Regions from separate parts of the Homo sapiens genome. Here all the other regions are linked to region 1. Evidence: fine-mapped expression QTL. A gene starts in region 1. Each other region holds a variant in brackets. All regions are shown on one strand. Distances are from middle to middle. Region 1 holds the start of VWDE (von Willebrand factor D and EGF domains). Region 2 has its middle 90 kb from the start of TMEM106B. Region 3 overlaps LOC105375155 (a long non-coding RNA gene). Region 4 overlaps VWDE (von Willebrand factor D and EGF domains).

Region 1 (8,444 bases):
AATATAGTATATCCACACAATGGAACATTATTCTATCTTAAAAAGGAATGAAATACTGGTACATGCTACAAGATGAATGAACCTTGATAATACTGTGCTAGATGAAGTAAGCCAGTCACAAAAGACAACCTATTATATGATTCAGTTTACATAAAATATCCAGAATAGGCAAATGCAATGAGACAGAAAGTAGATTAGTAATTCCTTATCGCTGGGGAGAAAGGGAGGGTGATAGCCGGCATGCGGCATGATAGCCCAGGGTATAGTATTTCTTTCTGATTGATAAATATGTTCTAAAATTGACTGTGGTCATCGCTGCATATACCTGTAAATATACTCTGAATATACACATATCTGTGAAAATGAAAAACCATAGAGTCGCACACTTTGAGTGATTTGTATGGTATATGAACATCTTAATAAAGCTATTTGAAAAAAAGAAGTCTCAATAAATGCATTTTCCATTTACCTCGTCTTCTAGTTTTACTCCATTAAACATAAAGAACTTGACAATGTTACCAATGTTATGAACTTAAAACCTGGTAATGGGTAATATTTGTCTTCAGCAGAGAGATTACAAAGCTATTATATAGAGGCAAAAAAGGGTTATGCGGTCTATAGTAAACATGAAATCATCTTCCTTTATAAACATTGGTCATTTTTTTCCTGGAAATATTTATCTAACTGTAATGAACAGATATATGTTATTACATGTATTTTTTAAAGTTATTCATAAAGATTTAGTAACGCTGTAAGCAAACCAAAGAAGGACCAGAAAAAATATCATTGCAGAAAATAATAAATTTGATTTTAGTATTTTATTTTTAAGTTTTGTATAGGATAGTGTTTGTATTCCCCTTATACAAAGCAAACTTACATCAGTAAAATGAGTTAAGATCAAAAAATGATAAGACAAAACTATACCCTGGACTGCTATAAATGTTGTACATAATGTTTTTTCAAGCTGCAGATGGTTGAACACAGATCAGACTTTTTCTGAAAAACGTAAGGAAACTTGCAATATAAGAACAAGTCACCTTTCATTAATATTCCTATCTGTATGAACACAAAAAACAAGCAAAAAGGGCTAATGAAAGTAGTTTTGGTTTAACTTCACTGTATTTTAAACTAAATGTTCTTTGTCATGGATTAAAGAAGTAGGAGGGGAGTATTCGCTCCACAGAGATCTCTTTTACAGTGCCAAAACTGATTCTAACATATATATACAAAAACCATAATACAGTATAATACGGATATACAAAACTTAACTTGGTGATTTATTGTAGGGATAAAATGTTCACCAATGAATTATTTCTGAGGGTCCGGTTGGAGGTGGAATTCGTGCAGTATGGAATTCAACTCTGTTCTGAGAATTCAGGTCCACTTGCGGCTAGCATACCTTGCAGATCCGGCGAAAGTTTCTTACAGTAAATTACAATGACCTCAAAGAGCAGGATAACAGCAGGAAACAACCAAAAACAGAACCAAGGGTCGTAGAGTAAGAGGAGGCAACAACCGCATGTGCGCAAAAGAAAAGTGTAGAGTTTTCAAGCTGGAAATTGACCTTTTCAAAGACAGCAGAGGGACAGAGAGGAGGCGGGTGAGGAACAAACATCGCTTGCTGCCTTAAAACGCACAGGGACGCTCCCCAAGTCGTCCAAAAAGTCTAGCCTAGTCCCTCTACCGCCCACGCGGCGCCACTGCGCGCCCACCCCCGCGCGCCCTACCTCGCTTACCTTCCCCCCAGGCCAGGAACATCAGCGCGATCACCAGCACGCAGGCTCCGCCAGGCATCGCTGCTTCCGCAGGTGGGGCGAAAGGCGTCGCAGAGCCCGGGCCGCGGGTGCCAGGAGGATGGGGCCACAGCAGCCCCTCGGGCCTCCTTTCTTGGATTTTCTCAGTCTGTTGCTGCTTGGAACAGGGAAGCTCCGCGTCCTCGTTCTGGGGTGCACCCAGTCCTTTCGTGGGATAGAGCCTTCGCGTAATCCGTCTGCGACTCCTCCCTTCCCATTTTGGCTGCTGGCTGACCTGAAAGCCACGCCCAACCTGTCCCCATAGCCCAGCGTGTACCGGCAGTGGCTCCGCCGCCTTGGATGTCACCGTGCAGTCGCACAGCCAGGAGTCAAGCTACAGGGATGTAGCTCTCCGCCCGCTGCGTCTTGCTGTTCTAACAGAGGCTGTATGAAAACTTGGTAATCCTAGAAACTGCTCAGATGGACCTCGCATAAAAGAAGCCTCACAAGGTTCCGTTGGAAGGGGAAGTTTCCCATGATTGTATCTGCAGACGGATTCCTAACTGCGTAATGGGCGCTACTGGTTTGCACCCCAAGGCGAAGGCGCTGAAAATGCTCCTGTCACCTTAGATCTCAGTGATGAACGACAGGAGGAGGAGTAGACACTAACGTTGCAACAGTAGATGCCTTTTCTTCTGCCTCTGTGACAGGTTTTCAGAAGTGGAAAGGACCGCATTTAGACACTAGCCAAACCATGAGGTTTGTCACCTGTATTTGCCAGTGATTCCCAGAGCTCTTACAGTTGTCCCAGGACGCTTTAGCACATGGCCACACGACTCCCAAGGTTGACCTGGGAGTTATTAGAAGATCAGAGGGCTCTAATGTCTTCCCCCAACCTCGTTTTTGTTTTGTTTTGTTTTGTTCGAGACAAGGTCTCACTCTGTCACCCAGGCTGGAGTGCAGTGGCACAGTCACAGCTCGCTGGAGCCTTGAACTCCTGGCGTCAAGCGATCTTCCCCCTCAGTCTCCCAAAATGCTGGGATTACAGGCGTGAGCCACCGTGCCAGGTCTAAGGTCTTCAGAAGTGTGGTTGCCTCTGCAGAGGAACAGGGTCCTTTTTTCAACTGATTCTACATCTTTTTATGTCTGAAAATGAAACCTCACTGTCCTAGTTTTTCCCTGGCTGTCTCATTCCTTGAGTCTCCCATCCATCACCTTGCACTTGGTTCTCACAGAGCCTTTACCTGAAGAGGATAGTTTGGGGGTCCAAGTGGGCACCAAGGTTCCACCCACAAATTTGGAGGTTCAAGGTTGGCCTAGGCATGGTGGTGGAAACAGGAGGTGTCCAAATGCATAAACAAGTATTTTTTTAATTTCATATAATTCTTTATTTTTAATTTGAAAGGTAAATTACCATTTAAAATTTTAAAGCTTATCATCTCCATAGTAAAAATATTAACCCATATTGGAAATAATTTCTTTTTGGTACACAATACTTGTGTGTAGCCATCTTTCAAATGCAGCAAGGGCACCCAATTTTCTGGATTAAAAATAAAATATTACTTTTTGGTGGACGGTAGACAGGTGATTTTTATCTTAAGGCTTAAGTATGGAAGGGCAATATAATGTAGGCACAATGAAAACCCAGAGATTTCTTAGTGTACAGTTAAGTCTTTTGTTTCCGCTTAAAAAATTCTAATAAAACAGACAAGAAATTAAATGTCAGTTTTCTCAATCTATTTGTGAAATCACCAGGAACAAAGTAATTTGATGTGAATCAAATCATAGCAGGACTTTTGTGAATTTATTTTCTAGCAGTATCTATACAAATGTAGTAAACTTTTATACTTTCTTGGAGGACAACATTACTTATCTGACTTCCATCAAAATACAATTTCAGGTATCGTGGGCCTTATTTTTTTCTTCAGTTTTTGATTGTTTATGAGTTTATGAGTTTACAATAAACTTGTGCCAAAACCCAACTTCCCTCCATGTGACTAAAGATGGAAAAAACTAAAAGCAACTTAAGAATTTTTTTTCAAGTCTCAGTAACCTGGCTTGGATCTGCAAGAATGTATCAATTAAATGCTGGTTATATCACGCCTGTAATCCCAGTGCTTTGGGAGGTCGAGGCAGGCGGATCACCTGAGGTCAGGAGTTCAAGACCAGCCTGGCCAACATGGTGAAACCCCATCTCTACTAAAAATACAAAACATTAGATGGGCGTGGTGGCGTTCGCCTGTAGTCCCATCTACTCGGGAGGCTGAGGCAGGAGAATCGTTTGAGCCCAGGAGGCAGAGGTTGCAGTGAGCCAAGATAGCTCCTCTGTACTCCAGCCTGGGCGACAGAGCAAGATTCCATCTCAAAAAAAAAAAAAAAAAAAAAAAAAATTAGTTATAGAACTGTATGGAAAACAAAAAGTAATGAAAATGTTTTAATCTATGTCTCGTGAAGTTAATCAAAAATTGGTATAAGATTCTTTTTTATATTTTTGAACATTAAAAACAATGGATGCATGGTACCCCGCAATATAGAGACTGACAGCACTTGTAAAATGCAGTAAATATCACTGAGACAAATAATAAGAATGTCAGAGGGAAGAAGAAATGAAGCCAAGTGCTAATAAGTACAATATAGCTTAAATTAAAAGATTAACAGGAGAAAATTTTCAAATGATAATTTTCTAGGAAAAGGAGATAACTCAGTTTTTGTCAGGTTAATTTACAAAGTGATGGGCTTGAGTGAAAAAAAATACCAAATTCAAGGGGCAGAAAAACCCAGTGATTAAGTCCACAAATCCTAGGTTAAAAACACCTGGGCTGTAATTCTAGATCTGCTACCTATTTATCAGAAGTGTAACCTTGAACAGCACACTCAACTCCTCTTAACCTCATTTTTCTGTACAATAGAAATGACAATAATAGTACCCCATAGACTTAAAGAATCAAAAGTGTATGTGCATGCCTGTGTGTGGCTGGGAGCGTGGAAGAGCATCTGGAGAAAGAGCACTCAGAATAGCATTTGGTCCAAAGTAGCTATTATGGTCGAATGTAACAGTTTACTGTTATTAGAACTAGGGTAATATTCTACATAATTATACTTTCTCTTATGTCTTATTATATAAAGGTGCATCATTTCTTGGCACTACTCTATTACAGTGTCTGCACAGTTTGGAGTAACCTTCCTGGAAAATACATATTTATGTAACATATGAATTCCTCATCCCATGTTTTACTAAATGAGTGAGCCCTTTTCCAGAAATGTAAAATTGATAGGATTGCTTCTGGGGTTTACTTGAGCTGAACACAAGTACACTCAGAAGCAGAGGCTAAAACATACAGCAGGTCCTTGGTCATTTTGTTTAACGTTATTTTGTTATAACACTGATGGAAAAAATCGATTTCCAGCAGAGGCCAATGTCTATGTGGAATTGGCACGTTCTTTCCATGTCTATGTGGGTCTTCTCTGGGTACTCCCGTTTCCCTCCACTTCTCAACTCTCTGTGTGTTGGGTGAATTGGCATGTCTACATAGGCCCTGCTTGAGTGATTGTGGTTGGGTATGTGAGCGCGCCCTGCGGTAGGATGGCTTCCTGAAGAGAGCTGGTTTACACCTCATGCCCTGAGCTCCTGGTGTAGGATCTGGCCACCTGTGATCCTGAACTGGAGTAAGGAGGTAAATAATTATCTTGTTTTCATTAATCTTTACTCAATGTATGTATAGTTTATTTTACTGTTTAATATTAGAAGTATTTTGGTCTTTTTTTAGAAGTTGGTGATGTTTTTGTGACCAGAAATATGGTATAGTAATTTAACTCATGTTGATATCAATTTGTCTGTAGTAAAACTGGTTTCATTACATGTTGTTTCACTTTACATCGCAGTTTTCAATAACCTATGGACACCGTTGAGGACTCATTGAATGTGGCTATAAGTGTGGTCAAGTAATGAAAACTGATCAGCTGAGGGAGGAAAAAGACAAAAGTGGATGACCAAAATGAAGGTGAGGTGAGAAACAACATGTGAGAATAGAGAAACAGAGAAAAGCACTCATACACGTCCACACGTGCACACACACACAAAAAGACAGAGAGGAAGAGAGACAGACAGACAGTGACAGAAAGAGAGATATGCTAATTCCTGATGGCTTTCCACTCAACAGCTCCAGAATCTTTCGAGGACTGCCTATGTTTCCTGTTTTGGATTAGGAAAATGTGGCACATATACACCATGGAATACTACACAGCCATAAAAAATGATGAGTTCATGTCCTTTGTAGGGACATGGATGAAACTGGAAACCATCATTCTCAGCGAACTATCGCAAGGATAAAAAACCAAACACCGCATGTTCTCACTCATAGGTGGGAACCGAACAATGAGAACACGTGGACACAGGAAGGGGAACATCACACTCCGGGGACTGTTGTGGGGTGGGGGTAGGGGGGAGGGATAGCCTTAGGAGATATACCTAATGCTAATGATGAGTTAATGGGTGCAGCACACCAACATGGCACATGTATACATATGTAACAAACCTGCACATTGTGCACATGTACCCTAAAACTTAAAGTATAATAATAATAAAATGTAAAAAATTAATTAATTAATTAAAAAATAAACAACAAATTTAAAAAAAAAAAAGAGATACCCCCAATACACTGCCTATAAATTAAGGTTAAGTGACTTTGAATTTGTTTTGCTGTTGTTGTTTATAAACAAAAGAATATTGTCTAAAACCTGTTTGAAAATATAAACTGTATAAATTATTAAATATTTGGTTGTGCTTATGCATTTGCCAGAAGAAACAGAAAAATGCACTTGAGATTTGTATTGAAACCTTACAGTGGTTTGTTTAGGAGGAAATGGACTCATCATTTGACCACATAGAAGCTATCCAATCAAAAAGTTTCAGGGAAAAGTATGGTGTGTTCATTGCAGAATGAAAGAAAATCAGCAGTTAAGCTGATTTTGTTATGACAAGCTCAATATGTTTCACAAGAAGATTATTCAGTGCTAGAAAGTCTAGAATACCATTGGCTTTTCCTTCCAACTAGCCAGATGACCACCTATAAATGATTAATAACTTCATTGTAGACAGTTATAGAGATTGTAACTGAAAATAGCTACAGAAAAGACAAAGATTCAGTGGTACTGAAGCCCAATAAGTAATATTTGCCAAATATACCCCATCTCTAATTCTCATTCATAGGCTGAACTTCCTGTCTTATAGTTTCTTTCCTTTTTCTGCATTTAAAAGTTCCTTCTTTTTAAAAGTGTTGAAAATGAATGAGAAAAAGCTGGATAGGAATGAAGAGAGAACCAATTTTGTTTCATTAAACATAGTAATAAAGAAAAACAGTTGATAGTTGAAAAGAGAATGCCCTAAAATCTGCATTACAAAAATGTTTTACCTGTGATATATCTGCTTCATACTGATCAAGAATTAGGGGGGAAAAATGTAATTTTTAAAGGAAAGGAATTAAAGCAATCACTTATTTAGTTATTCCTAGAAAGCCCCTTTAAACCTGGTTCCTCTTTTAGTCTTCCCTGTTTTGGAAAATGGCACTATTGAGTATCCCTCGTCACCAACTAGGAAAAAGGCATGAGGCTCCTCCCTTCTCTCTCATTCATGACTCCTCCTTTGTATTCAATCCATGAATAAGGAGTCCAAAGAAATCTCACACTCACCTGTTGTTCTGTGTCTTCTCTGCCACTCTGCTGGTCAAGCCTCCCCATGACTTACGTGGATCACTGCAGAAAATACCACATTTTTTCTCTGAGCTTCACTCAGGCCCCATTCAATCTACATCTCTGCCATATAATACCGGGATGAGCTTTCAAACTGTAAATCACACCATGTCCCTGCCCTAAAACCTTTCACTGGCCTCCCATAGATAATGGGTAAAAATACCAGAGGACTGTTACCTGCAACAGCTAGCCCCTGCCTACCTGTTCAAACTCAAATACATTGCTTTTCTCCCACTCCCACTCTCCCTCCTCAGCTCTCATATGTGCTATACTTCAACTCACTAGCCTTGTGAACGTTCCTAAAAGTTCCTAAAAGAAGGCAACCATTGCCCCTGGAAGGACTGATTGTTTATCCTACAGGTCTCAGCTGAATTTCGCCTCCTGAACACCCTGTTTAAATTGGCTCCTTACCCCAGGTCATTCTCTAGCGTTACACTATTTGTTTCCATTTTAGAACTTAAACTAAATATTTAATCTGTATCCTTGCTTATTGTCTGTTTTTTTGTTTTTGTTTTTGTTTTCTTACTAGAATATAAGGTCTATACAGATAGTGGTCATGGTTCTTTTACTCACCTCGCAGTATCCGTGACATGAACGAATCTAAGATTAGTATTTTTAAGGATAGAGTTCTAACAATGTCCATATTAAAAGAAGAAATGAAACTCTGACTCTAATTTTACTGTACTTTAAATTAAATATCAATTCAACAGAAACACGCCAATTGACTTGGTTAGAAAATTAGTATTCAGGATACATTTACTATCTTAGATGGTGGTTCTTAGTCCTTCAAACACTATGTTAGATTCTGATTGCCATTTTAACTAATTACCACAAATTTTGTAGCTTCAAACAACACAATTTTTTACTTGTTTATTTTATCATATTACCTTATATATCTGGAAGTCAGAAGTATGAAATGGGTTTCTTTTTTCTTTACTTTGTTGATTATTTGTCGTTTATTTT
Region 2 (8,444 bases), 110 kb before region 1:
CTGAAAGAATCCTGTAACACTAATGTCAGCAAGGGTTGCATTATGAGTCTCAACATACATGCATTCCAGAGATGAATAGAAATTCTGGTTACTTATAAATTCTTGAGAAAGAAGCCTGGTACCAGCTGCTGGCTTTAGATAATAGGGAAGTCTAATTACTTCTAAATTTTTCAGATAAGGAGTTTGACTTTGGATGGTCTGCTTGATGGGCACTAGGCGATTTTTGTCCTCCTAAATTTGAGTAATAAAACTAATTTGGCCTTCAGTACAGCTAGCTCTGAGTGAATTAAACTCATTCTCTATTGCAATTTTCTGGTCTTGATAAATCAGCTGTGTCTAGGCAGTGGGCAAGGAGAACCCGTTGGATAGTTACAAAACCAATACCCCAAAATATGATGTTTTGGCATGTTGAACTGAAGAAACCTCAAGGCCTCTCTGACCTCCCCCATTATTTAATCAATCTGCCCCATGTTAGTGATATTCAGTGAAACTTCAGGGGGCCAAAGGCCATGGCCCCCACAAAAGCAAAGCTTCATTTAAACACTATCTTTTCAAAAGAAATACATTGGTGCTGTAGCCAATAATACCCTGAATTTAAAGTTTCTCCTTAAATTTAAAACTTCTAAGACAAGCTTAATTTACCAACTCCAAAACATAGGTACTAAAACTTTTTAGTCTCTTGGATTGTTAGAGTCCAGATCTTAACTGGATTTTTTTTTCTTTCCCGATTTAAATGTTCTACAATTTAATAGCTGAACTATGTTTTATATGTGATGAAATATTGATGATAATTTAAGACACCTTCAACCTAAGAACTAGAAACATGACTATTAAACAATTGTCACATCAGCATTTATGATTTTATTTCTGGTCATTTTATTTATTTAAAAGCACAGTGAGGTCAGAAGGAAAGCTCAAGAATGGGGAGCAGGGTACAGTGGATTTTGGAGTGTGAAGGAAATAAAAAATTTTACCCCAAAATATATTAATTTGGCATATTTTTAAGTGGCCCTGCAAAGCTGTCTTCTGTGGGGGAAATTTGCATTTGTAGATGTGCAGAGAATCTACATTAATGCAGCCAGCCCGTCTCTTATTCAGATTAACTGAGAAAGATTAACTGAGTCTGAAACATTCAAAAGTCTGAAAAAGACTCTTACCATCTATTCTCTCCAAGGGCTGCTGCCTGTGAAGCAAAGCTTCATCTATATAACAACGCCACCTTTACTAGCTAAGCTTCCTGTTTCCTCCCTCCCAGAATCTGTCTTGCCACTAAGACCTGATTTACCAGCATAACCTGTTTTGGGTCATGTTCTGAGCCCACATTCCTTCTGCAACCTCAAGATGATGCATAAGCATCTGTACCACACTGGGGGTAAAATCTTCATTCTGAAGTCTCCTATGCATACATATTACATAAATTTATATGCCCTTTTTTTTTATTATTAATCTGCCCTTTGCAAGTTGGTTTTTTTCAGCAAACCTCCAGAGGGCCAAGGGTGAAGCCATCTTTACAAAAATTATAACGGAGGAAATTATGACAATGAAAGAGATCAGACCTAACCAACTCCATCTTGCTTCTAACCTTTAAGCTGTCCTTGTTCGTTCCTGGGCATAGGCTGAACTAACCTTTAACTCTGAAACAAAAATGATACTAGCCCTTTCTTTAAAAAAAAAAAAAAAAAAAAAAAAAAAAAAAAAAACCTTCTTGTCTGAGGACCAGTCTGCCTTTGTAGGACTAATAAATTAGCTACAAGATTAGAAATTAAGGTTTAGGGGTCACGCAGCCTCCAGCTACAACAGTCTGAACATCCCCAAATTGCCCCTGGGAACAACATCACTATTGTAAATCCTAAGATCAGTGCTTGAGATATTTTGCAGACCCTGCACTTGATGGATCACCTGACACCACCCAGAAGGGTAATGTAGTTCATCCAGTTCTATGATCCCACCCTGGGACAGAAGACAGCAAGGAAAACTCACTTCGACCCCTATAATTCTATCTCCAGCCTGAGCAGTTGGCATGCCCCACTTCCTGAGCCCCTACCCGCCAAATTATCCTTAAAAACTCTGATTCCCTAGTGCTTGGGGAGACCAATTTGAATAGTAATAAAACTCTGGTCTCCCACACAGCCAGCTCTGCGTGAACTACTCTTTCTCCATTACAATTCCCCTGTCTTGATAAATCAGCTCTGTCTAGGCACTGGGCAAAGTGAACCTGTTGGGTGGTTATAAGGGTTCCCCTTGGTCCCTACAGTTGGAAAAATTGACCTAGTTATTTGCCATTTCTCATCAAAATGATTGTTAAGTAAAATTTATAGAAAGCTATTATTTGAACTGGGCTTCTGCACTACGCCCAACAGGCCAAACCAAAATGAAGTTACTTATGCCAAAATGAAGTTATTTATGCCGAAGTTCAAAGCCACCAAGCCAAAACTAAGTTGTTTATCAGATCTTTCAAGAAATCAGGAGAGAGATTATAGCTGCAGGGGACAGGGGAAAACCTTCCCTTCACCCTCTGAAGTTTCACTGAAAAGTCAACTTACAAAAAACAAATTGAAGAAAAAGCATACAGATTTGTTAGCAATCATACAAGGGAGAACTACAATGTAATTACCCTACCCTGGAATGGTGTTCAGATGTTTTTATAACATCTTGAGGTTACAGAAAGAATAAGGGCTTGGATTGCTCGCAAAACAGGTTAAGGTGGTGATACAGTTTGGCTCTATGTCCCCACCCAAATCTCATCTTGTAGCTTCCATAATTCCCATGTGTTGTGGGAAGGACTTGGTGGGAGATAATTGAATTATGAGGGTGGGTCTTTCCCATGCTATTCTCATGATAGTGGATAAATCTCACAAGATCTGATGGTTTTAAAAATGGGAGCTTTCCTGCACAAGCTCTCTTTCTCTTTGCCTGCTGCTATCCATGTAAGACGTGACTTGCTCCTCTTTGCTGTCTGCCATTATTGTGAGGCCTCCCCAGTCACGTGGAACTGTAAGATGATTAAAAATCTTTTTCTTCCCAGTCTCGGGTATGTCTTTAACAGCAGCATGCAAATGGACTAATACAGGTGGTAAAGCAGGATATGAGAGGGGGAGAAGAGGAGGCCTGTCTAACAAAGATAGTCTTGCTATGTAAATGAAACCTACCCTCTCTGAGGATAGCAGCCCTCAGAGAGAATAGATAGTAAATGCTTTTAAAAACCTTTAAAGGTGTTGAACTCTCAGTTAATTTTTCCTTGATCCAGACAAGGAGAGGCCTCAGAGAAAACCTGGGCTCACTAATGTAGATATTCTACAGATGCAAATCTCTCCTACAAAAGATAACCCTTCAGGGTTATGTCAGTTTGCTCTCTCTCTGAACAGCCATCTCAAAATATGTCAAAGAAATCTATTTTGGGGTAAAATATTTTTATTTCCATCATAGCAGAATCTCCAAACAGGCCAGTTTTAGCCAGCATGATAAGGAAGTAACCTTTACAAGGAAAGCAATTTCAAAACACCAATTGTCTTTTTGTTCTCTGTTTCTGCTATCTTTAGCACTTTTCTGTCTATAAAGCCAAATAACTTTGCTCAGTTCATCAGGACATTCATTTTATTTTATCGAATAATGTGTTGTCTGATTCTAAAATTGCAAATAAAAGCCAATTAGGATATTTAAACTAAGTTTATTGTAATTTTGTCTTTTGACAGTATCTGGTTACCAGAAGAAGGGGACCCAAAATGCTGCTGAAAATTTATGAGACTTATTGAGGAACACAGGAGAGCCTCCATTGACCCCTTCATGGATCCCCTTTCTTCCTTATGGACCGCTACATGCTGCAACTTCATTTTGGATCAGACTCTGTTCTTCTTGCATTGAGTGTTCCCCCAACCCAGATCTTTTTGGCCTTTGAATCCAGGCTTAGATTGTGCTGTAAAAGAGAGTACCAACCTTGGG[G/T]TGTGTGGTTGACAAGTCACCGATAAGAGTGAAAGTCACAACAGAAACAGGATTGGGTTCTGTAGGGAGGCCTCAGGTGTTTGACTAAGTCAGGCAGAAACTAGCAGTAAATGGCAATTACCGCCGGAAGTATGAACTTTGGCTTTTGAAAGTTTTCAGAAATGTGTTTTTTTCTTGCATGCTTAGGTAGAGAAAAATTATTAGCTATGTTGGTCAAGGCAATCTCAGAGCCAAAGACACAAACTTGACTGGTGGGCATGCTAGTGGCAGCAAATTTGTGCAGGTCTGGAGCAACCTCAATTCTTGCTTCATCAGAAGAAAGAATTCAACTGAAGGGGCATAAGGCAGAAAAAGAGACTGAGGCAACTTTCAGAGCAGGAGTGCAAGTTTATTAAAAAGCTTTAGAGCAGGAAAGAAAGGAAAGTACATTTGGAAGAGATTCAAGTGGGCAGTGTGAAGGCAAGTTCCCCATTTAAACTTGATCCTAAGACTTTTATGTGCTGGCCCACTTCTGACCTCTTGCATCCCTTTCCCTACATTCTTTCTGAAGGGTGAGCTGCCCACATGTGCAGTGCCCTCCTTATGCTTGGGAGGTGAGCATGCACAGTGTGTTTAGGAAGTTATATGCATGCCCACCTGGGTTTTCCCTTTTCTGGTGGAATGCCCCCAGAAAGCCATACTCTGCTATTTTGTCTCTTAATGCGCATGCCTGAGCTCACTTGGCCAATTCCTGAGATTTTATTGGAAGCTGATTACCAATGTCAAGTGTTTTTATCTGTTTGGGAAATTGCTTCTCCCTGCTGCCTGCAATTAATTATCACTTTAGTTTGAAAACTGTCAACCATCAGGAAGTTGCTTCTCCCTGGCACTGGCTGCCAATTATCATTTTTAGAGAGCTACTGTGATAGCTGCTGAATGGTCACCTGATGATTGCCTGACGTTCCTGGTGGGGATAGGGGTGGGGGTGGGTGGAACCGTCTCCTGCCACGCTCATACCTGACTAATTACCAGTAACAGGCATGGAATAGGCACCTAAGAGGTATTGGAGCAGTCACCACCAAAATAAGACTCCCATGGTCACAAAAATGGGTTAGTTGATGTAGGTCACCCATCAGCTTCAAGAAAACTTTGCGCAATGAGGTACTCTGTGAAAGTATTAGAATACACAATGCTCTGGTCTTTTCATCATAGGATTTTATCTCTGCTCTGATTGACCCAAGGGCCAGAATAAAAACAAGATCCTTAATTTCTAAAGAACTGACCACTCCACTTTCCAGCTATGCCTGCTTTTTATACGTATAAATATTAGGCACTGGTAGCCTCAAATTTTTAAAGGCAAAATCTTTTTTAAGATAATGGAGAATTACAATGGCCATTATATAGAACCTCCCAGATGAAGAATACTGTACTTTAAAAAGTGCACTTAAAAATGAGGGGTACCAAATTAGGCTTACCCAGGGATTCCTATTGATGTGTGGAAGCCTCTAGAAAGATTTCAGTACAATTTTTATTGCATCTTTTAAAAGACTTGTTTACAAAAGGCAATTAAAAAGCTTAAGAGACTAATTGATTTAAAAAATTGAATCTGTCAACCTTTAGCATAGTTACTATTCCTCCCTAAAGGAATAAAGAAAGCTAAATAAAAAGTAATTTTGGCCCTCATGTAAAGAAGGTTTTCTTCCTTTTCAGAGTTATCCATGTGGAGTCCAGGCATAGAAAATGCTTGTTTGCCCTATTCATTAATGGAGCCCACCCTAAATAAACTGAGTAATCTAGAATCTAAGTTCTGGATTACTGAATCTAGAATTTAGAATTCTGTTTTAAAAGCAGAAGATTCTGTTTCCTAAAACAGAAACTGTTAGAGTAGGTAGCTAGGCAGACATGTGCAGGGCAAGAGAGGCCTTCCCCTGACAGGAATGTCAGGGGGCCATCAGGTGATCAGACAGCTTGTTCAACTGTCTTTCTAAAATAATAATTGGTCGCACCTGGTGCCAGGAAAGGGCAGTCTCACAATAGAAAACACCTGAACCTGGTGAGCAGCAGCTTCCTGGTAAGATCTTAGGAGTTGGGTAAGTGGGCTCAAGTATCCACACTAAGAGGCAAAATGGTAGAGTTTAACTGCTACATGACCTTCCTCTAGGAACCCTCAGCTGGTAAAGGAAAACCACCTCAAATGAGCATACGCACAACTTCAGGAAACACTGTGCATGCTGCCCCTCCCAAGTGCTAGCAGGCAACTGTGCACATGGACAACCCAGCCCAAGGTAGAATCAAGGGAGAAGAAACAAACCCTGGAACCATGCCAATGTATAAAACCCCCAAGTCAAGGGTTGGACAAGGCACTTGGATCACTTAAATTGACCGCTTGGCCCTTTTCCAAGGGCACTTCATATCCTTTTGTTTCTGCTCTAAAACTTTTTAGTAAACTTTCATTCCTGCTCCAAAACTTGTCTTGGTTTCTCCCTCTACCTTAGGCCCCTCAGTTGAATTCTTTCCTCCAAGGAGGCAAGAATCCAGTTGCTACACATGCATATGTATTTGCTGCAACTAACATACTTTGGTGTTGTGACTCAGATACGTTACCTAGTTGTAAGATCTCTCTCTGCCTTGCCTCCTTTGCCTGGAGTTATTCAATCCCCATATGAGGTTTCCTTCTCCCCCTTTGCTCTCCTGCTTACTAACCAACCCTCAGGATGATTTCTGTCAGTCACAGTGGCTCTACTTCCCCTGGCTGATCTCTCAGCTCACCCTGACAGTGACTCACAGGAGTAGAAAGAACCTTGGAGTCTGCACTGAGTACACCTGAGACACTCATGGCCCTGCTGGACAGGAGGCTCATGAGAATGGTAGGTCTAAAGCCTAACACTGTGCAACGTCTGGGGTTTCCTCTGATTTATCAACTAAAATAAACTCTTTCCAAAAAACCTGCACTGCGTATTCTCCTGTTTTCTCTGTGTATATTTTGAAATGGGCTTGAAAACCCACAAGGCTATTCACCTTAGGGACAAGTCTGCCTATTCTCTGCTTTCACTTTACGTGCCTTATGACTTCCTTCTCTGCCTGAAACATACACTGTTATTCATGGTGTAGCTCGTGCTGTGTTTGTGCAGCAGCAAAGAAACAGGCTCTCTTAAGGATGTCTTTTGGCTCACTGCCAGGAAAGACATTAATTGGAACCCTGGCTCTGCCAGCTCCTTATGATTCACCATATATCTTTTGTCCCTGTTATTCTTCAGGGCCAAGTTTTTTTGGCTTTTGGTGAAATTTGTCTGCCTTCATAGGATCTCCGTCTGTGGCCATTTAAGGACCCCACCTACTTGCTTTTTTTGAGCCAGCACCCCTTTGGGAGGAGGGAAAATTATTCCTTTGCCATTTGCGAGCCCTTATCCCAAGCCCCAAGTCATTCAGAATTTCCTCCTTTATGTCAAGAGGGCAAATCAACATTGCCCTCTCGAATCCAAGGGATGCTGTTTTTGTGAGTGTATGGAAGCTTTCTATGAGTATTCTTCTTGCTTTCTCCCACTTCCTCCTGCAGCAGAGGAATTGTCCTGTCTGTTTAAGCATTTGTCTTCTGCATGTTACTCCAACAGGACATGGAACCTCAAATACAAATTTTCCTCCATTTCTCTAATTACCTCCACATCTTTCTCAACACTCGACTTGTAAGGGAAAAAGGCTTCTTAAATGAGCACGTACATAACTTCAGTAAACACACTGCACATGTGTCCCCTCCCAAGTGCTGGCAGGCCACTGCACATGCAAACAGCCCACTCCAAGAAAGAATCAGGAGAGAAGAAAAACAAATAACAGAAACATGACAATGTATAAAACCCCAAGTCAAAGATTGGACAAGGCACCTGGACAGCTCAAGTTGCCCACTTGGCCCTCTTCCAAGTATACTTTACTTCCTTTTGTTCCTGCTCTAAAACTTTTTAATAAATTTTCACTCCTGCTCTAAAATTTGCCATTCTTGCTCTGCCTTATGCACCTGGGTAGAATTCTTTTCTCTAAGAAGGCAAGAATCAAGTTGCTGCAGACCCGTATGGATGCACCACTGCTAACAAAACCAAGTTAAACAGAACACCTATGGAACTAAATTAGGCTCAAAAATGTAACTTTTTAACATTTAGCTATTTTGAAACTCTTTTGAAAAAAAGATATATCTATGAAGGAAAATGAGCAGAAATTCTTACAATGGGGGAGAGCATTGGTCTAAGCAAACCTCACCTTTGACCATTTTATTTTAACTGTGCTTCCTACCTATACTTTTCTTTGTCTAGGCAAATAATGGCATTTAGGCCGGAAATTTAACTTATGTGCCTTTGAGATGTAAATTTTCTAACTTGTTCTATATAAGATCTTTATCTTTAGAAATGCAAACTTAGGAAACTTTTTACATAGTTATTAAAAATGGAATGAATATAATCGACAGTAATGGGGTTAAAACAGAGGTCAAATCTACCAAAGATTGTATGGAACAGAGGGACCCCCAGCTTGTCCCCTGA
Region 3 (8,444 bases), 25 kb after region 1:
AATAGTGCCACAATAAACACATGTGTGCATGTGTCTTTACAGTAGCATGATTTATAATCCTTTGGGTATATACCCAGTAATGGGATCACTGCGTCAAATGGTATTTCTAGTTCTAGATCCTTGAGGAATCACCACACTGTCTTCCACAATTTACACTCCCACCAACAATGTAAAAGCATTCCTATTTTTCCACAACCTCACCAACATCTGTTGTTTCCTAACTTTTTAATGACTGGTGTGAGATGGTATCTCATTGTGCTTTTGATTTGCATTTCTCTGATGACCAGTGATGATGAGCATTTTTTCTTGTGTCTGTTGGCTGCATAAATGTCTTCTTTTGAGAAGTGTCTGTTCATATCCTTTGCCCACTTTTTGATGGGGTTGTTTGTTTGTTTCTTGTAAATTTGTTTAAGTTCTTTGTAGATTCTGGATATTAGCCCTTTGTGAGATGGGTAGATTGCAAAGATTTTCTCCCATTCTGTAGGATGCCTGTTCACTCTGATGGTAGTTTCTTTTGCTGTGCAGAAGCTCTTTGGTTTAATTAGATCCCTTGTGTCTATTCTGGCTTTTGTTATCATTGCTTTTGGTATTTTAGTCATGAAGTCCTTGCCCATGCCTATGTCCTGAATGGTATTGCCTAGGTTTTCTTCTAGGGTTTTTATGGTTTTAGTTCTAACATTTAAGTCTTTAATCTATCTTGAATTAATTTTTGTATAAGGCGTAAGGAAGGAATCCAGTTTCACCTTTGTATATATGGCTAGCCAGTTTACCCAGTACCATTTATTAAACAGGGAATCCTTTCCCCATTTCTTGTTTTTGTCAGGTTTGTCAAAGATCAGATGGTTGTAGATGTGTGGTGTTATTTCTGAGGCCTCTGTTCTGTTCCATTGGTCTATATATCTGTTTTGGTACTAGTACCATGCTGTTTTGGTTACTGTAGCCTTGTAGTATAGTTTCTTTTTGTTTTTGTTTTTGTTTTTTGAGACAGAGTCTTGCTCTGTCACCCAGGCTGGAGTGCAGTGGCATGATCTCGGCTCACTACAAGCTCTGCCTCCCAGGTTGACGCCCTTCTGCCTCAGCCTCCCAAGTAGCTGGGACCAAAGGCACCCGCCACCATGCCCAGTAATTTTTTGTATCTTTAGTAGAGACAGGATTTCACCATGTTAGCCAGGATGGTCTTGATCTCCTGACCTCATGATCCACCTGCCTCGGCCTCCCACAGTGCTGGGATTACAGGCATGAGACACCAAGCACAGCTGCCTTGTAGTATAGTTTGAAGTCAGGTACTGTGATGTCTCCAGCTTTGTTCTTTTTGTTTAGGATTGTCTTGGCAATGAGGGCTCCTTTTTGGTTCCATATGAACTTTAGTTTTTTCCAATTCTGTGAAGAAAGTCATTGGTAGCTTGATGGGGATGGCATTGAATCTATAAATTACCTTGGGCAGTATGGCCATTTTCACAATATTGATTCTTCCTATCCATGAGCGTGGAGTGTTCTTCCATTTTTTGTGTCCTCTCTTATTTCCTTGAGCAGTGGTTTGTAGTTCTCCTTGAAGAGGTCCTTCACATCCCTTGTAAGTGGTATTCCTCGGTATTTTATTCTCTTTATAGCAATTGTGAATGGGAGTTCACTCATGATTTGGCTCTCTGTTTCTGTTCTTGGTGTATAGGAATGCCTGTGATTTTTGCACATTGATTTTGTATCCTGAGACTTTGCTGAAGTTGCTTATCAGCTTAAGGAGATTTTGAGCTGAGACAATGGGGTTTTCTAAATATACAATCATGTCATCTGCAAACAGGGACAACTTGACTTCCTGTTTTCCTATTTGAATACCCTTTATTTCTTTCTCTTGCCTGATTGCCCTGGCCAGAACTTCCAACACTATGTTGAATAGGAGTGGTGAGAGAGGGCATCCCTGTCTTGTGCTGGTTTTCAAAGGGAATGCTTGCAGTTTTTGCCCCATTCAGTATGATATTAGCTGTGAGTTTATCATAAATAGCTCTTATTATTTCGAGATACATTCCTTCAATACCTAGTTTATTGGGAGTTTTTAGCATGAATGGCTGTTGAATTTTGTCGAAGGCCTTTTCTGCATCTGTTGAGACAATCATGTGGGTGTTGTCATAGGTTCTGTTTATGTGATGGATTACATTTATTGATTTGCATATGTTGAACCAGGCTTGCATCCCAGGGATGAAGCCCACTTGATCATGGTGGATAAACTTTTTGATGTGCTGCTGGATTCAGTTTGCCAGTATTTTATTGAGGATTTTTGCATTGATGTTCATCAGGGATATTGGTCTAAAATTCTCTTTTTTTTGTTGTGTCTCTGCCAGGCTTGGTATCAGGATGATGCTGTCCTCATAAAATGAGTTAGGAAGGATTCCCTCTTTTTCTATTGATTGGAATAGTTTCAGAAGGAATGGTACCAGCTCCTCTTTGTACCTCTGATAGAATTCGGCTGTGAATCCGTCTGGCCCTGGACTTTTTTTGGTTGGTAGGCTATTAATTATTCAGAGCCTGTTATTGGTCTATTCAGAGATTCCACTTCTTCCTGGTTTACTCTTGGGAGGGCGTATGTGTCCAGGAATGTATCCATTTCTTCTATATCTTCTGGTTTATTTGTGTAGAGGTGTTTATAGTATTCTCTGATGGTAGTTTGTATTTCTGTGGGATCAGTGGTGATATCCCCTTTATCATTTTGTATTATGTCTATTTGATTCTTACCTCTTCTGCTTCTTTATGAGTCTTGCTAGTGGTCTATCTATTTTGTCGATCTTTTCTTAAAACCAGCTCCTGGATTCATTGATTTTTGAAGGGTTTTTTTGTGTCTCTGTCTCCTTCAGTTCTGCTCTGATCTTAGTTATTTCTTGCCTTCTGCTAGCTTTTGAATTTGTTTACTCTTGCTTCTCTAGTTCTTTTAATTGTGATGTTAGGGTGTCGATTTTAGATTTTTCCTGCTTTCTCTTGTGGGCATTTAGTGCTATAAATTTCCCTCGACACACTGCTGTAAAAGTGTCCCAGAGATTCTGGTATGTTGTGTCTTTATTCTCATTGGTTTCAAAGAACATCTTTATTTCAGCCTTCATTTCGTTATTTACCCAGTAGTCATTCAGGAGCAGGTTGTTCAGATTTCATGTAGTTGTCCAGTTTTTAGTGAGTTTCTCAATCCTGAGTTCTAATTTGATTGCACTGTGGTCTGAGAGACAGTTTGTTATAATTTCTTTTCTTTTACATTTGCTGAGGGGTGCTTTACTTCCAATTATGTGGTCAATTTTAGAATAAGAGTGATGTGGTGCTGAGAAGAATGTACATTTTGTTGATTTGGGGTGGAGAGTTCTATAGATGTCTATTAGGTCTGCTTGGTGCAGAGCTGAGTTCAAGTCCTGGATATGCTTGTTAATCTTCTGTCTTGTTGATCTGTCTAATATTGACAGTGGGGTGTTAAAAGTCTCCCATTACTATTGCGTGGGAGCTTAAGTCTCTTTGTAGGTCTTTAAGGACTTGCTTTATGAATCTGGGTGCTCCAGTATTGGGTGCACATATATTTAGGATAGTTAGCTCTTCTTGTTGAATTGATCCCTTTACCATTATGTAATGGCCTGCTTTGTTTCTTTTGATCTTTGTTGGTTTAAAGTCTGTTTTATCAGAGACTAGGATTGCAACCCCTGCTTTTTTTTGCTGTCCATTCACTTGGTAGGTCTTTCTCCATCCCTTTATTTTGAGCCTATGTGTGTCTCTGCATATGAGATGGGTCTCCTGAATACAGCATACTGATGGGTCTTGACTCTTTATCCAATTTGCCAGTCTGTGTCTTTTAATTGGAGCATTGAGCCCATTTACATTTAAGGGTAATATAGCTATGTGTGAATTTGATCCTGTCATTTTGATGTTCGCTGGGTATTTTGCCTATTAGTTGATGCAGTTTCTTCCTAGTATCGATGGTCTTTACAATTTGGCATGCTTTTGCAGTGGCTGGTACCGGTTGTTCCTTTCTATGTTTAGTGCTTCCTTCAGGAGTTCATGTGAGGCAGGCCTGGTGGTGACAAAATCTCTTAGCATTTGCTTGTCTAAAGGATTTTATTTCTCCTTCACTTATGAAGCTTAGTTTGGCTGGATAAGAAATTCTGGGTTGAAAATTCTTTTCTTTAAGAATGTTGAATATTGGCCCCCACTGTCTTCTGGCTTGTAGAGTTTTTGCAGAGAGATCCACTGTTAGTCTGATGGGCTTCCCTTTGTGAGTAACCTGATCTATCTCTCTGGCATCCCTTAACATTTTTTCCTTCATTTCAACCTTAGTGAATCTGACAATTATGTGTCTTGGGGTTGCTCTTCTCAAGGAGTATCTTTGTGATGTTCTCTGTATTTCCTGAACTTGAATGTTGTCCTGTCTTACTAGGTTGGGGAAGTTCTCCTGGAGAATATTCTGAAGAGTGTTTTCCAACTTGGTTCCATTCTCCTGGTCACTTTCAGGTACACCAATCAAA[T/C]GTAGACTTGGTCTTTTCACATAGTCCCATATTTCTTGGAGGCTTTGTCCATTTCTTTTCACTCTTTTTTCTCTAATCTTGTCTTCTCATTTTATTTCATTAATTTGATCTTCAATCACTGATACCCTTTCTTCCACTTGATCAAATCAGCTATTGAAGCTTGTGCACGTGTCATGAAGTTCTTATGCCATGGTTTTCAGCTCCAACAGGTCATTTAAGGTCTTCTCTACACTGTTTATTCTAGTTAGCCATTCATCTAACCTTTTTTCAAGGTTTTCAGCTTTATTGTGATGGGTTAGAACATGCTCCTTTAGCTCGGAGAAGTTTGTTATTACCAACCTTCTGAAGCCTACTTCTGTCGACTGGTCAAAGTCATTCTCCATCCAGCTTTGTTGTGTTGCTGGTGAGGAGCTGCAATCCTTTGGAGAAGAATAGGTGCTCTGGTTTTTGGACTTTTCAGCTTTTCTCCTCTGGTTTCTCCCCATCTTTGTGGTTTTATCTACCTTTCATCTTTGATGTTGGTGACGTACAGGTGGAGTTTTGGTGTAGATGTCCTTTTTGTTGATGTTGATGCTATTCCTGTTTGTTAGTTTTCCTTCTAACACATTCCCTTAGCTGCAGGTCTGTTGGAGTTTACTGGAGGTCCACTCCAGACCCTGTTTGCCTGGGTACCACCAGCAGAGGCTGCAGAACAGCAAATATTGCAGAACAGCAGATATTGCTGTCTGAATCTTCCTCTGGAAGCTTTGTCCCAGAGGGGCACCCACCTGTATGAGGTGTCTGTTGGCTCCTACTGGGAGGTGTCTCCCAGTTAGGCTACATGGGGGTTAGGGACCCATTTGAGCAGGTAGTCCGTCTGTTCTCAGAGCTCAAATGCCATGCTGGGAGAATCACCACTCTCTTCAGAGCTGTCAGACAGGGACATTTAAATCTGCAGAAGTTTCTGCTGCCTTTGGTTCAGCTATGCCCTGCCCACAGATGTGGAGTCTATAGAGGCAGTAGGCCTTGCTGAATTGCGGTGGGATCTGCCCAGTCTGAGCTTCCCGGCCGCTTTGTTTACCTACTCAGGCCTCAGCAATGGCAGATGCCCCTCCCCCAGCCAGGCTGCAGCCTTGCAGGTTGATCTCAGACTGCTGTGCTAACAATTAGCAAGGCTCTGTGGGAGTGGGACTCACCAAGCCAGGCAGAGGAGAGAATTTCCTGGTCTGCCGCTTGCTAAGACCACCGTAAAAGTGCAGTATTTGGGCAGAAGTGTGCCGTTTTTCCAGGTACACTCTGTCACGGCTTCCCTTGGCTAGGAAAGGGACATCCCCCTACCCTTTGTGCTTCCCAGGTGAGGTGACGCCCTGCCATGCTTTGGCTCGCCCTCTGTGGGCTGCACCCACTGTCCAACCAGTCCCAGTGAGATGAACCAGGTAACGCAGTTGGACATGCAGAAATCACCCATCTTCTGTGTTGAACATGCTGGGAGCTGCAGACTGGAGCAGTTCCTATTCGGCCATCTTGGAACAGAACCCCAATTTCTTTTTATATGGTTTTCTTTAACAATTTTAGCATATTTAAGACAGTTTTATTTAAAGTTTTTGTCAAGTAAGTCCAATGTCTGTGCTTCATCAGGGATAGAAATCAGATTCTTTCTAATTTCTCCAATTAATGGGCCATATTTTCTTATTTCTTTGTATTCTTTATAAATTTTTGTTGAAAACTAGACATTTTGAATATTACAATGTGTTAACTATAGAAATCAGGTTCTTTCTATTCCTCATGTTGGATCTGTAGTTTTCTGAGAGTTGTGATTATTTATCCAGTGACTTATCTGTACTGTTTTTGTATGGTTTATATTCTTTGTTATGTATGGTTTCAGGAATCTCTGTTCTTTTTGCCTGTGGTTAACTAGTGTTTTTAAGAGATTTTCCTGAAGTCCTGGGGAAAAAAAAGAAGAAGAAGGACAAAACAAGATAAAAGAAAGAAAAAATAATAAGGAAAAAAATTCTTCCAGGCTTTATAGATTGGCTCTGTGTTGGGGCAATGCTTCAATGGTTGGCCAGGCCTTCACAATGCTTCCTTATATTTCACTTCTTGCTTGCTCTGAGACTAAATTTCAGCCAGAGGTGAAGGTCTTCTCGGGTCTCTTCTGAGCATCCTTTTTCCCTGGGAATGTATGTGGCTTTACAGACTCCACAGTATACTGGCACTTTTCAATGCCCTAATTTTCCCCAAATAACTCTTTCCACATTTTTCCCCCAGGTTTTTAGAGTCTCTATTATTTGTGTCAACTGAACTCTCTCACCCCAGATGGCATGAAGTTTTTTCATTTGATTTATAATGTTATTGAGGAATGTACTCTGCTCAGCCATTTTTCTGCCCTAAGAGACTTCTGAGTTGCACAAAACAAAGGTGAATACCTTGAGTCTGTCCTCCAGGAAGCTACACGACAGGACAAAACTACCAAACAAAGTAATAATATTTATGTTTAAGAATAAGTTCTACTACTCTGCCCTTTCCGGAACCAGGAACCAGGGTCTTTTATTGAGAATGCAGTCTGCTGGCTTCAAAACTGTCATTGAGTCGGGGTAGGTGGGAGGCAAGGGCAAGTAAAAATAATGCAAAGCTTTTGTGCTTTTTTTAAGTTGGCTTTTTCTAGAATCAGCATTTGCTAGGTTGCTGTAAAACAAGAAACCATATGTTTTAATACATTTTTTTAAAGAGTTCTGTGACACAGTTATAATAATTAAAAGGGCAACTGTTTCCTTAGTTTCTCCTAATTTTCCTTTACCTAAACTTTGTCTTTACATTATCGTATGTTCCATTCACTCTCAAATGTACCTATTGTTCTTACCCACCAGCTCATACATAAGTATCTCCTCCAGTCCTGATCTTTTTCCTGAGCTTCATATTCATACCATCAACAAATGAACACAAAATGACCAAGATTCAACTCATAGCATACCACCTGTAATCTACACATCTGGCCATTGTCTGGATTGTGTCTAAGGTTTAGCCTCCACTCCTAATACTTCCTGCTTTGTACATCCGCATAATGAAAACTAAACTTTACTCTTGTCTCAATACATTTGTTTTTATTTCATCATGCTGAAATTTTATCTGTTTATCTCATCCAATATACTATAAGCCATTCATATGTGATTACCCAGTACCTAACTCAATATTCAATATTGATAATAAATATTGATGAACTGTATTAACTAATGAAAATTGTAATACTCCAGTCATATCCATAGGTGGCAGTAAGCTCCTAAAATTATGAGGAAAGTGGTCTGTGTCTAAACATAATTAATCACAGAAGTTAAAATGTTAAAATGACCTGGTTTAACTTATATTTTGGTCTTTTCATGCATACCAACTGCATAAGCTTTCACTTTTCAGAAATATTAAGCAAGGAGAAGAGAATACAATCTATTAAACTAGGAGCTCTTTGAAATGTTTTTCTACCTTAATTGCTCAGTTTTCAGACTCACCTATGACACTTCCTCACTCCTTTCAGCCTTCTCATTTGAGTATAAACTCAGTGCCAATTTTATCTAGAAGAAACTGATATGAAGAGTTTTCAGCCAACATTTAAAGCAAAATACAAGTTCAGTTTAAATAATTTGAATTTCTATTTTTCCTAATTCTTTGGATATTCTATAACAAGTGTACAAAGCAATATGAGATTTTTAAAGATGATCTTGTTTTGATAATGAACAAGTTATTTTAATATAAATTCAGCAGTTTCCTCTGGAATCCATTTTGCTACAATACTACAAGTATGCCTATATAGATATACCCTGTAAGTAACAACTAGTTTATAAAATGAAATGTCACATCACCAAATTATCTGAGACCGTATTTTTCCACTTAAGTTATCAAATAACAATAAGACATCCATATTCCATCTGGGTTTACTAATTTATCAAGGCCTACTGAAAATTCCTATTTCTGAAAAAAATCTTCCTA
Region 4 (4,000 bases), 28 kb before region 1:
AACAGATTTGCCCCCAAAATTGGTCAGAGAGGAAGTATGCTATCATATCCAATTAATGATTCCAAAGTCCTCCTAAGAATCTAAAAGGAAAAAAGTTGTTAAAAAATGTTCTATCTTCTTTTCTTCCATACAGATTTTTTAGGTATGAAGTTATATTAATCAGATATAGGCATACTGAACTATTTTTTTAGAAATATATACTTTTCCCATGCACATAAAAAATAACAGAAACATTCAAACTCTTAACCAACTCTCTAAGGTGAATACAGAATATTTCTAGCTTAGATATAGCCCATAACATCCATTCCTCAAGCCAATACATGAGGGGTTGTTCTCTTTAAGCCTGTGAATAGCAGCATAGTCTGTTTAGAAATACACTCAGACACCAACTGGTTCCCTATGAAAGTAAAGATTTAATGCTACTGTACTTAAAGAGGACAAGATGAGGGGTATCCAGAATGAAATCCAGAATTTTTTCTTCAACAAACAAAAGCCATTTTTAATTCTCAGAGAATAAGAACATGCATGCAAACTTCTAAAATGTAGAAATATATTTAGGCTATTATTATATTATTTTAGCAATGCTTGCCTTGTTGAAAGAATTGAAAGCATGAAAATATATTTTAAAGTATACCTGTAACTGAAGAAAATCTTTGACTAACATGATTTTGGAAAACATCAATAACATCATCCTCTTTCTGTTCTCTCCATAAACTATAGTAATATTTGCATAATACACTTTTCAGAGCTAACTTGAAGTAGAATTGTGTCAAATAGTCCGAGAGAGGGTATAATGTAATATGTCTAGGCTGTAATTAAAAATACAATGTTGCTCGTGGTGCTCCTGAAATCTGAGCGAGTAGGTAGGTATTACTGAGCCTGCTTACTGTTAACAATCCTAAGATGACCTCTCTTAATTCCTCTATCTCTTTAGCCATCTCTTTTCTTGAGTGCATCATTCCAAATGATTCTCTTTCTCTCTCTCTCTCTCCTGGCTTTTTTATCTTCTTGTTTCTCTGATTTAATTATTTATAATATGGACATGAAGGTCTATAGATACCTTGTGTTTGGTATATTTACTAAAGACAATGTAATGTTCTACGGTGAAAATGTATGTGGTATGCCAATGAAATTGTAATCTCTCTTAAAGGTTATATTTTATGTATCTGTAACTTGCTTTGATCTCTACATCAGGGGCTCAGTGGGAAAAAGAACATAATCAAGCCAATCACTGCTATGCATGGTTTGTCCTCGCATATTCTATCTTGTTATGTGGGAGGATTTCTTCACTCTATCCATTGACACATATGTGGCCATGTATCACAACATCCATATAATCAGTAATTGAAATAGAAGAATTTTAAGACACAAGATCCCAAACATAAACGTACGTTAGGGAGAGAAACTTGAAGGATGCATTATGAGATCTATATTTCATAAGCTTGAACTTTTAACGTAACTTATCAAATGTCTCTCATTGGGGATGATTTGAAAAATCTTAAAGAGCAGTTTTTCCCTCGTTTTCTGTAAACTAAGCAAACAGAGGAATAAACAGGAGAATGAGAAAAAAATAGGAGAAAAAAAGAGGAGCGAGAGGAAAAAGATGATGACGAAGAGGAGATTATTCACTATTTTTTTTCTTTTTTTAAAATGTATGCTTTCAGCCAAGAAGAAGAAATGTGAATTGCTTTGGCAATCGTCAGTTTGGCCGAGTATTAGTAATATGATTGGGCTAAAATTTGATGTCAACATGCAACATGATTTATTATATGAGTACACTCCAGTGACTTTTCCTACAGGAAAAAAAAGCATTATTGTTTGCAATCTAATAATAAGATAAAATAAAGTTAGTATATTACCTTGACCAATAGTTTTCAGTTTTAATGAGATTTTGCATTCTTGATCAAGCTCACTAAATTCAGAACAAATAATAGGAACTGTGCTTTCTATCCTCAGGTAGTATTCTTTCCCATCCTCTGATATAGTGCTCAATTCAGGCTGTAGCTGGTATAAGAAAATACGTAGAAAAATTATGTTAAAATATAATTTATTTCTAAGGCACAGTTTTGAAAGGGCATTTTCTCAACAGCACATATTTTACTAAATAATAACTTAAGCCCTAGAATGTTTTAACTAAGCAAGACCATTAAAATCAAACTTATACAAATACAAGCAGCACACACAGGAGTACATGGAGCTGCTGTACTGCTCTGAGTTTGACTCACTTTGGTTCCCCAACACATTTGGCAAATCATATCCAAGCCTGCCTCAATGATTCTGGTTCTGTGGTGAGCACTGGAAAG[C/T]GAAGAAGAAAGAAATATTTCTATTTTCTTCCACTTTATTGCTAATGTTTACTGACACACCAACAGAAGACTCTGGTTTTTCTTAGGGATTAATACCACCATCTCAATTAGAAATTTAAGTACTTTTAATACATAAATCAAATTATTGTTGTCACCTGAAATATCTCCACACTTAGCTTATTTCTCAGCATCTGATTTCCAGAGTTGAACTTCCTGAGAACTGGTGCAACCCAGGACTGGCCCTATCTTCATTCACAGGCCAAACCTTTTTTGAGGCAGGAATGTTTCCATGCAGTCTCGAGTCTTGGCTAGCTCTCAAAACAGATGATTCTTAATACTGAATATTCTCCCTGTTAGCCTAATCAGAAAGGGTACAAGGGTGGGGGTGCTGACTATTGACCCCTGACACTGTCTGCTGAGTGCTAACCAATGTAAACCAAAATGTTCCTGTGTTCTCAAAGCTTGACCTCTGCTTCCCCTCACGCTGTAGTTATGCAATTCTGACAAAGTGGTCCACTCTTCTCACTTCTTTTCCTGGTTCCTACTGTGTGTACATGGACTTTATTCATAAACAGGGTTTATCCTGGTCCTGAGTCCTATTCTCACAATCTTACCATTTATCTCATCTTGTCCTTGAACGAGAAATGAATCCAGGTCAAACTCGAGTCCTGTGGGTGAGACCTTCCAGGTTCACCGTGCTTGCCTGCCTGGACCGTTTGATATTGCCCCCACTTCTTCCACTGCTTATTAATTCCCTGTCATCTCTGCTCATCTGCTAGAATAGCTCTTCAGTTCTTGGATCCTATTGCCACCAGCAACAACCAAATCTCCTCCTCTGTTTAGCTAGCTCAATCTTTGCAGTCCATAAAACTCATAGCTCTGGGTCAATTCTACTCTAGTCAGAGACTCTACTACTTGGCCTGGTATCTGTCTTCCAAAATGCATGATAACTAAATATTACTAGGCTAACTTTCGTTACACGATGGAATGAATTAGAGGAATAGACCTTCTGCTTTACTCTAATTTGAGCTATTTCTTTAAAAAATGAAGGTACATCTCAACTTTAGTTAACAAGACCCCTCAAACTTTGTTGCGCATTAGAATTACTGGGGCTTTTCTTCAAATATGGGGACTCATGGGTCTCAACATTCCGATTCAGTCTGTGATGAGGTACAGAAACCAGCATGGACAGATCACAGTTTGGGAAACATAGTTCCAGAGGAATAATCTTTCTGATGCATCCCCACTGCTGCGTACCTTAAAGCCTGCAAAAAATTCTTGGCTTTCGATGGCTACACTTTGTACATGAGGATTCTCCAAGAAAAAGACAGAAGCGCTGCAGAATATCTATGGATATAATTAAAAAATAATCACTTAGAAATTCAATTTTGGAGAAAACGTGTAAATTATCACTTTTAAAATCCTAAATTTAATTCTTCATAGATAGTATATAAAGATAATAAAAGAATTAAATAATTTAAAAGCTTACTTGATATTTCAGAAAAATTCCATCATTATAAAATATGACGTATTCAAACCTCAACATAAAGTATAGTAGGCTTTGTATTTAGGATGTTTTTAAAAAGTACTTAAGGCCGGGTGCGGTGGCTCACGCCTGTAATCCCAGCACTTTGGGAGGCCGAGGCGGGCGGATCACGAGGTCAAGAAATCAAGACCATCTGGCCAACATTGTGAAA

What was found.
Region 2: its variant is fine-mapped to the expression of VWDE in whole blood (TOPMed, PIP 0.97).
Region 3: its variant is fine-mapped to the expression of VWDE in whole blood (TOPMed, PIP 0.96).
Region 4: its variant is fine-mapped to the expression of VWDE in unexposed skin (GTEx, PIP 0.98).

The regions. Positions count from the first base shown.
Region 1 is chr7:12,401,923-12,410,366 of GRCh38, forward strand. It overlaps VWDE (von Willebrand factor D and EGF domains), which reads right to left and starts at 1,943. Exons shown (of 29, transcript NM_001135924.3): 1 at 1,737-1,943. The coding sequence starts at 1,794. It overlaps LOC105375154 (a long non-coding RNA gene), which reads left to right and starts at 4,216. Exons shown (of 3, transcript XR_927035.4): 1 at 4,216-5,407; 2 at 5,616-5,734; 3 at 5,894-6,504. RefSeq lists enhancers at 1,231-1,798, 1,799-2,364 and silencers at 1,501-1,795, 1,689-1,738, 2,676-2,865.
Region 2 is chr7:12,296,639-12,305,082 of GRCh38, forward strand. No RefSeq gene overlaps it. Among named protein-coding and RNA genes, the nearest start is that of TMEM106B, 90 kb to the left of the region's middle. The variant G/T (reference allele first, on the strand shown) is at 3,940.
Region 3 is chr7:12,426,490-12,434,933 of GRCh38, forward strand. LOC105375155 (a long non-coding RNA gene) reads right to left here. Exons shown (of 3, transcript XR_927036.2): 2 at 7,967-8,039; 3 at 6,907-7,151. Among named protein-coding and RNA genes, the nearest start is that of VWDE, 27 kb to the left of the region's middle. The variant T/C (reference allele first, on the strand shown) is at 4,488.
Region 4 is chr7:12,375,917-12,379,916 of GRCh38, forward strand. It overlaps VWDE (von Willebrand factor D and EGF domains), which reads right to left. Exons shown (of 29, transcript NM_001135924.3): 6 at 3,561-3,650; 7 at 1,860-2,004. Among named protein-coding and RNA genes, the nearest start is that of VWDE, 26 kb to the right of the region's middle. The variant C/T (reference allele first, on the strand shown) is at 2,304.